Linked DNA regions of Homo sapiens. The protein of the gene in region 1 interacts with the protein of each later gene in a biochemical or structural test. Each region holds a gene or a part of one and is shown on either strand. Other genes may lie near its edges.

Region 1 (3,821 bases):
TTTGCTCTCAGTAATAACTGGTTCCCATCCTTTCTTGAGCCCTTTCAATCTTCTTTTTTTTCTCAATTCTAAAGCTCTCCCTTACAAATAGTTTTACAACTAGTACCCATGATTCACAGATTTTCATTAAGAGAATTGTTTAAGTCCAACTTGATTTGTTCTCACAAGTTTGAAAAATTGGAATATTTTCTGGGTTTTTTTTTCATTTTCCCTTCCAGTGGAGTTGAACAGTTCATTATACTTTTTAAATAGATCACAGTCACATAAGTCATAGCCCACCCTTTTCTTCTCCTTAGAAGATTCTCTATTATTATTATTATTTTACTATTTGTAGGTAGAAAACATTTATCAAATAAATGTTTTTGTTTTTTGCTTTTTGCTTTTTTTTTTTTTTTTTTTTTTTTGAGGCGGAGTCTTGCTCTGTCACCCAGGGTGGAGTACAGTGGCACAATCTTGGCTCACTGCAGCCTCTGCCTCCTGGGTTCAAGCGATTCTCCTGCCTCAGCCCCCCAAGTAGCTGGGCCTACAGGCACACGCCACCATGCCCAGCTAATTTTTGTATTTAAGTAGTTATGGGGTTTCACCATGTTGGCCAGGCTGGTCCCAAACTCATCACCTCAAGTGATGCGCCTGCCTCGGCCTCCCAAAGTGCTGGGATTACAGGCATGAGCCACCGCGCCCAGTCTCAAATAAGTGTTTTCACTTTTTCCTGGCCTCTCTAAACTCCACACCTCTCAAGATGTCAAACCACAGTGTGGACTGCAGTGTAACGGGGCGACCTCCACTCATCAGAGTTGATGGCCTTAGAGTCTTTCATGCCCTTTTCTATATTTTGCCTTTTTTTTTTTAAGTCAGTATTGCATTTTCTGATTTTTCTTGATAGGACCTTGCTAAGCAGTACTCTGACAGACTAGAATGCTGTGAAAATGAAGTAGAAAAGGTAATAGAAGAAATACGTTGCAAGGCAATTGAGCGTGGAACAGGAAATGACAATTATAGAACAACGGGAATTGCTACAATCGAGGTGTTTTTACCACCAAGACTAAAAAAAGTGAGTAATTTCCCTAAATTTGAGTAGGCACTAATGTCCAGTTAGTGATGAGGTCAAATAAATTGTTGTTGTTTGGAAAGTTACAATCCAAAGTCAGAATTCTTTTAAGTGACTTTACATATTGAACAATTTATCAGCTTGAAAGTCAATGTTACAAATTCTTAAACTGGAACATTCCCAAGGTAGGCTTTTAGAGACCCTCTTGGGCTTCTAAAATGCCACAGAGCTGTATGTCACATTCTGATCCTTTCTAGCGTGTGAACGTTGAGAAATAATGGGGAATAAAGGATTCCCAAGTTTCCTAGAAGCCTGTGCAGGAGGACACAGCACAGAAGGCTTCATCCTTTTCCTGTTCCAGTAGAGGTCAGAGGGCAGTCCGCTGAGTGCTCTCAAGCAGGGCCGAGGAGATCTGGGTGGGGTCACCTCCTCTCATTGCCATGGCCAGGTAGTTTGCATCTAGAAATGTCACTGTGGCAAGGCACCCAGAGCCTCTTGGGACTGATCGATGCCAGCACTCTCAGAAGAAATAAGAGCATAGGCTCCAGCCCTACTGGGTCTGTGGTTTTTCTCCTCATGTGCGGAGACAAGAGATCGTAGAAATAAACACACAAGACAAAGAGATAGAAGAAAAGACAGTTGGGCCCGGAGGACCACTACCACCTAGACGCGGAAACCGGTAGTGGCCCCGAATGCCTGGCTGTGCTGTTATTTATTGGATACAAGGCAGAAGGGGCAGGGTAAGGACTGTGAGTCATCTCCAATGATTGATAAGGTCACAGGAGTCATGTGTCCACCGGACAGGGGGCCTTTCCCTTGTAGGTAGACGAGGCGGAGAGAGAGGACAGCTTACGTCATTATTTCTTCTATGCTCTTCTCAGAAAGATCAAAGACGTTAATACTTTCACTTTCTGCTGCTGCTATCTAGAAGGCGGAGCCAGGTGTACAGAGCGGAACATGAAAGTGAAACAGGAGCGGGACCACTGAAGCACAGCGTCACAGGGAGACGTTTAGGCCTCTGGATGGCTGTGGGCGGGCCTGACTAATGTCAGGCCTTCCACAAGAGGTGGTGGAGCAGAGTCTTCTCTAACTACCCCAGGGAGAGGCTCCCTTTCCCAGTCTGCTAAGTAACAGGTGCCTTCCCAGGCACTGGCGCTACCGCTAGACCAAGGTCTGCTAAGTAACGAGGGCCTTTCCGGGCACTGGAGTTACCGCTAGACGAGGGAGCCCTCTAGTGGCCCTGTTCGGGCATAACAGAGGGCTCACACTTGTCTTCTGGTCACTTCTCACTGTGTCCCTTCAGCTCCTATCTCTGTGTGGCCTGGTTTTTCCTAGGTTATAATTGTAGAACAAAGATTATTGTAATATTGAAATAAAGAGTAATACTACAAACTAATAATGATATTCATATATAATCATATCTATAATCTATTTCTAGTGTAACTATTCTTATTCTATATATTTTCTTTATTATACTGGAACAATTTGTGCCCTCGGTCTCTTGCCTTGGCACCTGGGTGGCTTGCCGCCCACATATATATTAATATGTAAAACCTCATACATGAATGGTCATAGCAACACTATTCAGTAGCTGAGAGATGGAAATAGTCCAAATGTCCATCAACAGATGAAGGGATAGATAAATGTGGTCTATTCATACGATGGAAAACTGTTCACAATGCAAAGGAATGAAGTGCTGATGCGTCCACAACGTGGGTGCACCTGAAAACATGATGCTCAGGGAAGAAGCCAGACACAAAAGGCCACGTACTGCACTATCCCATTTATATGAAATGTCCGGAATAGGCAAATCTGTAGCAGCAGAAAATGGATTAGTGGTTGCCAGGGGCTGGGGGGCAAAGGGGAGGGAATGGGGTGCAGGCCATGGTGTTTCTTTGAGGGATGGTGGAAATGTTCTGAAATGTTAAAGACGTCCAGCTGTGTGAGACGGCCCCTCTGAGCAGCCCTGCCTGGTGGTGCCACGCTGCCGCCCCCTTGAGGACGTGCAGGTCACAGGGTCAGCCTGTGCTGGGTTATGTTCAGTAGACTTCTAGGCAGGCAGCATTTTAGTTTTTAACAGTGAACTCAGTTTATATCCTCTGCCGTCAGCTTTTCTGATTTCACAGGGTAATCTCTCCAAAATGGGTTAAATTCAAGTACGTTTTACTTTGTCTTATTTTTAACAGGATAGGAAAAACTTGTTGGAGACCCGATTGCACATCACTGGCAGAGAACTGAGGTCCAAGTAAGTATCTGTGTGCTCTGTGTCCTAGGTGCTCTGGGCCTTTTTACATTGGCTTATTTGATCCTCTGTGAGCGTCCTCTTAAGATAGGTAGGGCAGGTATTATCTTCATTTTATAAAAGAGAAAATTGAGGCTTTGAGGTTGAAGGACTTATTAGAGCTGTCACTGGTAGGTAAGTGGCAAAGTGAGGACTCAAGACTTGCAAGCACTATTTCCTGGTGTAACTTCCGAGCAGGTGGGAACTCCATGCCTATCATATGGTAGGCACTTGGTGCATGTTTGAGTGAATGAGTGAGTGATACAAGCAGGAGACACCTGGTACTCACTAGCTCATTAGTTTTGAATTACTATTTTTTTTCCCTAATGTATTAATAGCTTGCTATGACCTTCAGCACGGTGTTTTATCTGATTTCAGGCTGTTGGCCCATCTGTAAAACACACACACACACACACACGTTTGCCACATACTAGTGAAATCCTAACTTTGAGATCTGGTGGGTTATTTCATCTCCTTGTATGTTTTAAAATG
Region 2 (3,327 bases), on another chromosome or scaffold:
CCACCTCAGCCTCCCAAATAGCTGGTACTACAGGCATGCACCACTGTACTCAGCTAATTTTTGTTGTTGTTGTTGTTGTTGTTGTTGTTTTGGTTGAGACAGGGTTTCGCTGTGTTGTCCAGGCTGGTCTGGAACTCCTAGGCTCAAGTGATCCTCCCGCCTCAGTCTCCCAAGGTGTTGGGATTGCAGGTGTGAGCCACCATGCCCAGCCAATTCTAGCATTTTTTAAAAAACTGCTGAGATGATTTCTGGTGTCCTTGAGAATTCTTCAAATTATCTGAATATTAATTTCTAGCATTGATATTTAGAACAAGGTCCTTCTGACTTTTTTTAAGATATCTTTCAGGCTGGGTGCAGTGGCTTACCCCTGTAATCCCAGCACTTTGGGAGGCTGAGGCGGGTGGATCACCTGAGGTTGGGAGTTTGAGACCAGCCTGATCAACATGGAGAAATCCTGTCTCTACTAAAAATACAAAATTAGCCAGGCCTGGTAGCGCATGCCTGTAATCCCAGCTACGTGGGAGGCTGAGGCAGGAGAATTGGTTGAACCTGGGAGGCAGAAGTTGCAGTGAGCCGAGATTGTGCCATTGCACTCCAGCCTGGTCAACAAGAGCGAAACTCCATCTCAAAAATAAATAAATAAATCCTTTCATTGCCGTATCATCTAAAATAATGCCAATATTCTCACTGATTTTGGGGGACTGATGTTGGAAGATGACTCATGGAATTAAGAGGATCAGATGGTTCAAAGAATCTTGCCCTATCAAAGTTGTTTACAGCCTAAAAATATTTGATAAATGAAGGTATGTTCAAAGCCTTCTCATTCTCCAAAGCAGTGCTGCTGAGAATATGCATCTTTTAGAAGGCAGTAGATCCCAAAGACCAACATAGGATGTTTTACCTAGAAGACAAATTGTACATTGGGCTTTAAGGACTCATGAAACCATTGCCTGTTTCAGACGCTGACCGGAAAGGAGATTGAGATTGACATTGAACCTACAGACAAGGTGATGCATGCCCAACTCCTCTTCATGTACTTCTTGCCATGTGTATTTGTTTGCATATGCTTATGAACTTGGTCCTTTTGCTCTCATGCTGTCTGCATAGCCCTTGTTCTTTCCGTTTCCATGGTCCTACCCCTAAGCAGCAGCCCCTGACTACTTGTCTCTCTAAAGGTGGAGCGAATCAAGGAGCGTGTGGAGGAGAAAGAGGGAATCCCCCCACAACAGCAGAGGCTCATCTACAGTGGCAAGCAGATGTGAGTTTGGAGTGAGAATGACAGCATGGCGATCTTATGTGAAGATGAGAAGAGGAGAGGGGGCACGTACTGAGGTGGATCAGGGGTGCCTCTTGTTTTTGGTGCCTAAGACTCTTTGGCAATCTGGTGAAGCCTCTAAGCCCCTTCTCAGAATAAGATTTTTTCAGGCATAAAACAAAATATATAGAATTAAAGGAAAACTAATTATATTGAAATAGTTATTAAAATACTAAAACAAATTTGTGATATAGTAATATATGTACTTTTTTATTAATGCATAAGATCTAATGGTAGGTCTAATATGACCATAATTTTGAAATATTTTCAAGATACCTATAAATGATCATGATAGAAAATAGTTAATTGCTATTGTTAACAAGTTACCTATATTGCTAATACTACTGTGGTTTTTGGGCTATGTTTAAAGTTAGAAGAAATGTTAAATTTCAGTTGGGGGTTAGTAAAAATAAAGATGGGATTTTTTTTCTCATTCAAGTTCACAGACCCCCAAAGAGATCCAGGAAACTCAAGAACTCCTGTTCTGGCCGGGCGCAGTGGCTCACGCCTGTAATCCCAGCACTTTGGGAGGCTGAAGGGGGTGGATCACCTGAGGTCAGGAGTTCGAGACCAGCCTGGCCAACATGGTGAAACCCCATCTTTACTAAAAATACAAAAATTAGCTGGGCGTGGTGGTGGGCGCTTGTAATCCCAGCTACTCAGGAGGCTGAAGCAGGAGAATTGCTTGAACCCAGGAGGTGGAAGTTGCAGTGAGCTGAGATCGTGCCACTGTACTCCAGCCTAGATGACAGAGCGAGACTCTGTCAAAAACAACAACAACAACAACAACAACAACAACAAAAAACTCCTAAGTCTTCTTTTTCTTTTTTTTCTGGCTTCCTTTTCCTGCAGGAATGATGAGAAGACAGCAGCTGATTACAAGATTTTAGGTGGTTCAGTCCTTCACCTGGTGTTGGCTCTGAGAGGAGGAGGTGGTCTTAGGCAGTGATGGACCCTCCATTTTACCTCTTTACCCTGTCGCTCATAATGAGGCATCATATATCCTCTCACTCTCTGGGACACCATAGCCACTGCCCCCTCCCCTGGATGCCCAGTAATGTATGTCTACTGGTGGGAGACTGTGAGGATCCCAGGATTCAGTATTCCTGGCCCAGAGGGCCCTTGCTGGCTACTGGGTGTTAGTTTGCAGTCCTGTGTGCTTCCCTCTCTTATGACTGTGTCCCTGGTTGTCAATAAAATATTTCCTGGCCTCCTGGAATCTTTCTTCTGTTGCACAAGTTGACTGAAATAAAAATGGACCTAATGCTCACTCAGTTATAGCAGGCTGAAGGAATCGGACAGTGGAAGGAATGGTGCTCTTACGGGGATTATCAGACTCTAGGAAAACCTACTTAGTGGTGTGTTGGAACCAGTTCCTAGTGGCTAATGAGAGCCAATTATTGGCACCTTTTTCCAACTCTATTAAGTGACTTCATGTTGGTAGCTTGAAATTGGCCATGGTAGGATTATTTACAGAAACTAGCAAACACTACAGATCAGTTCCTCCCCACAAACTGGTTGTTATACATCTACCAGTGTAGTGCTGACATGGATGGTGAAACCTTCGGAGAGTGAATTCTCTCTTGACTGTGGCTGTACTGGACATTTAGGCCTGGTTGGAGAACGCCTTCAAGGGTTTGGCTGACACTGTACTCTATGGCTGGAATATTACTGAGGACTTTGGGTTCTACACTGTCAGGAGGTTGATAATGCAGAAAGATTGAGTGACAAGCTGTGATGTATCACTTGGGTCTCAAGAAGAGGCAGGTGCTAGAAGAAAAGGCTTTCCTTCTTCCCTGGCTTCTTAGTATAATAGAATCGGGCAAGGCTGGGTGGAGTGGAGAAGTAGGGAGGATGCCCGTGGCCAATGCCTTAGAAAGACTTGACTGCTGTGGTTGCATGTGTGGTCGTGTTGGTACCTCGCTGCAATCCTCTTCCCCGCCCAGCATCAGATGGCACTCTTGCGCCATCTCCAGGCTGATGACGCCCCGAGTGGCGACGCTCTAGTCGCC

What was found.
Region 2: the proteins of NUB1 (region 1) and NEDD8 form a complex in vitro, tested with the Homo sapiens proteins (4 studies listed by BioGRID).

Annotation. Positions count from the first base shown.
Region 1 is NC_000007.14:151,348,190-151,352,010, forward strand, and holds part of NUB1 (NEDD8 ultimate buster 1), read left to right. Parts: intron 1-883; coding exon 884-1,051; intron 1,052-3,234; coding exon 3,235-3,293; intron 3,294-3,777; exon of another isoform or gene 3,778-3,821. UniProt on the Homo sapiens protein: Specific down-regulator of the NEDD8 conjugation system. Recruits NEDD8, UBD, and their conjugates to the proteasome for degradation. Isoform 1 promotes the degradation of NEDD8 more efficiently than isoform 2.
Region 2 is NC_000014.9:24,216,064-24,219,390, reverse strand, and holds the end of NEDD8 (ubiquitin-like protein NEDD8), read left to right. Parts: intron 1-959; coding exon 960-1,007; intron 1,008-1,175; coding exon 1,176-1,258; intron 1,259-2,167; coding exon 2,168-2,264; 3' UTR 2,265-2,534; downstream 2,535-3,327. Other genes in the region: NEDD8-MDP1 protein, read left to right, coding at 960-1,007, 1,176-1,258. UniProt on the Homo sapiens protein: Ubiquitin-like protein which plays an important role in cell cycle control and embryogenesis via its conjugation to a limited number of cellular proteins, such as cullins or p53/TP53.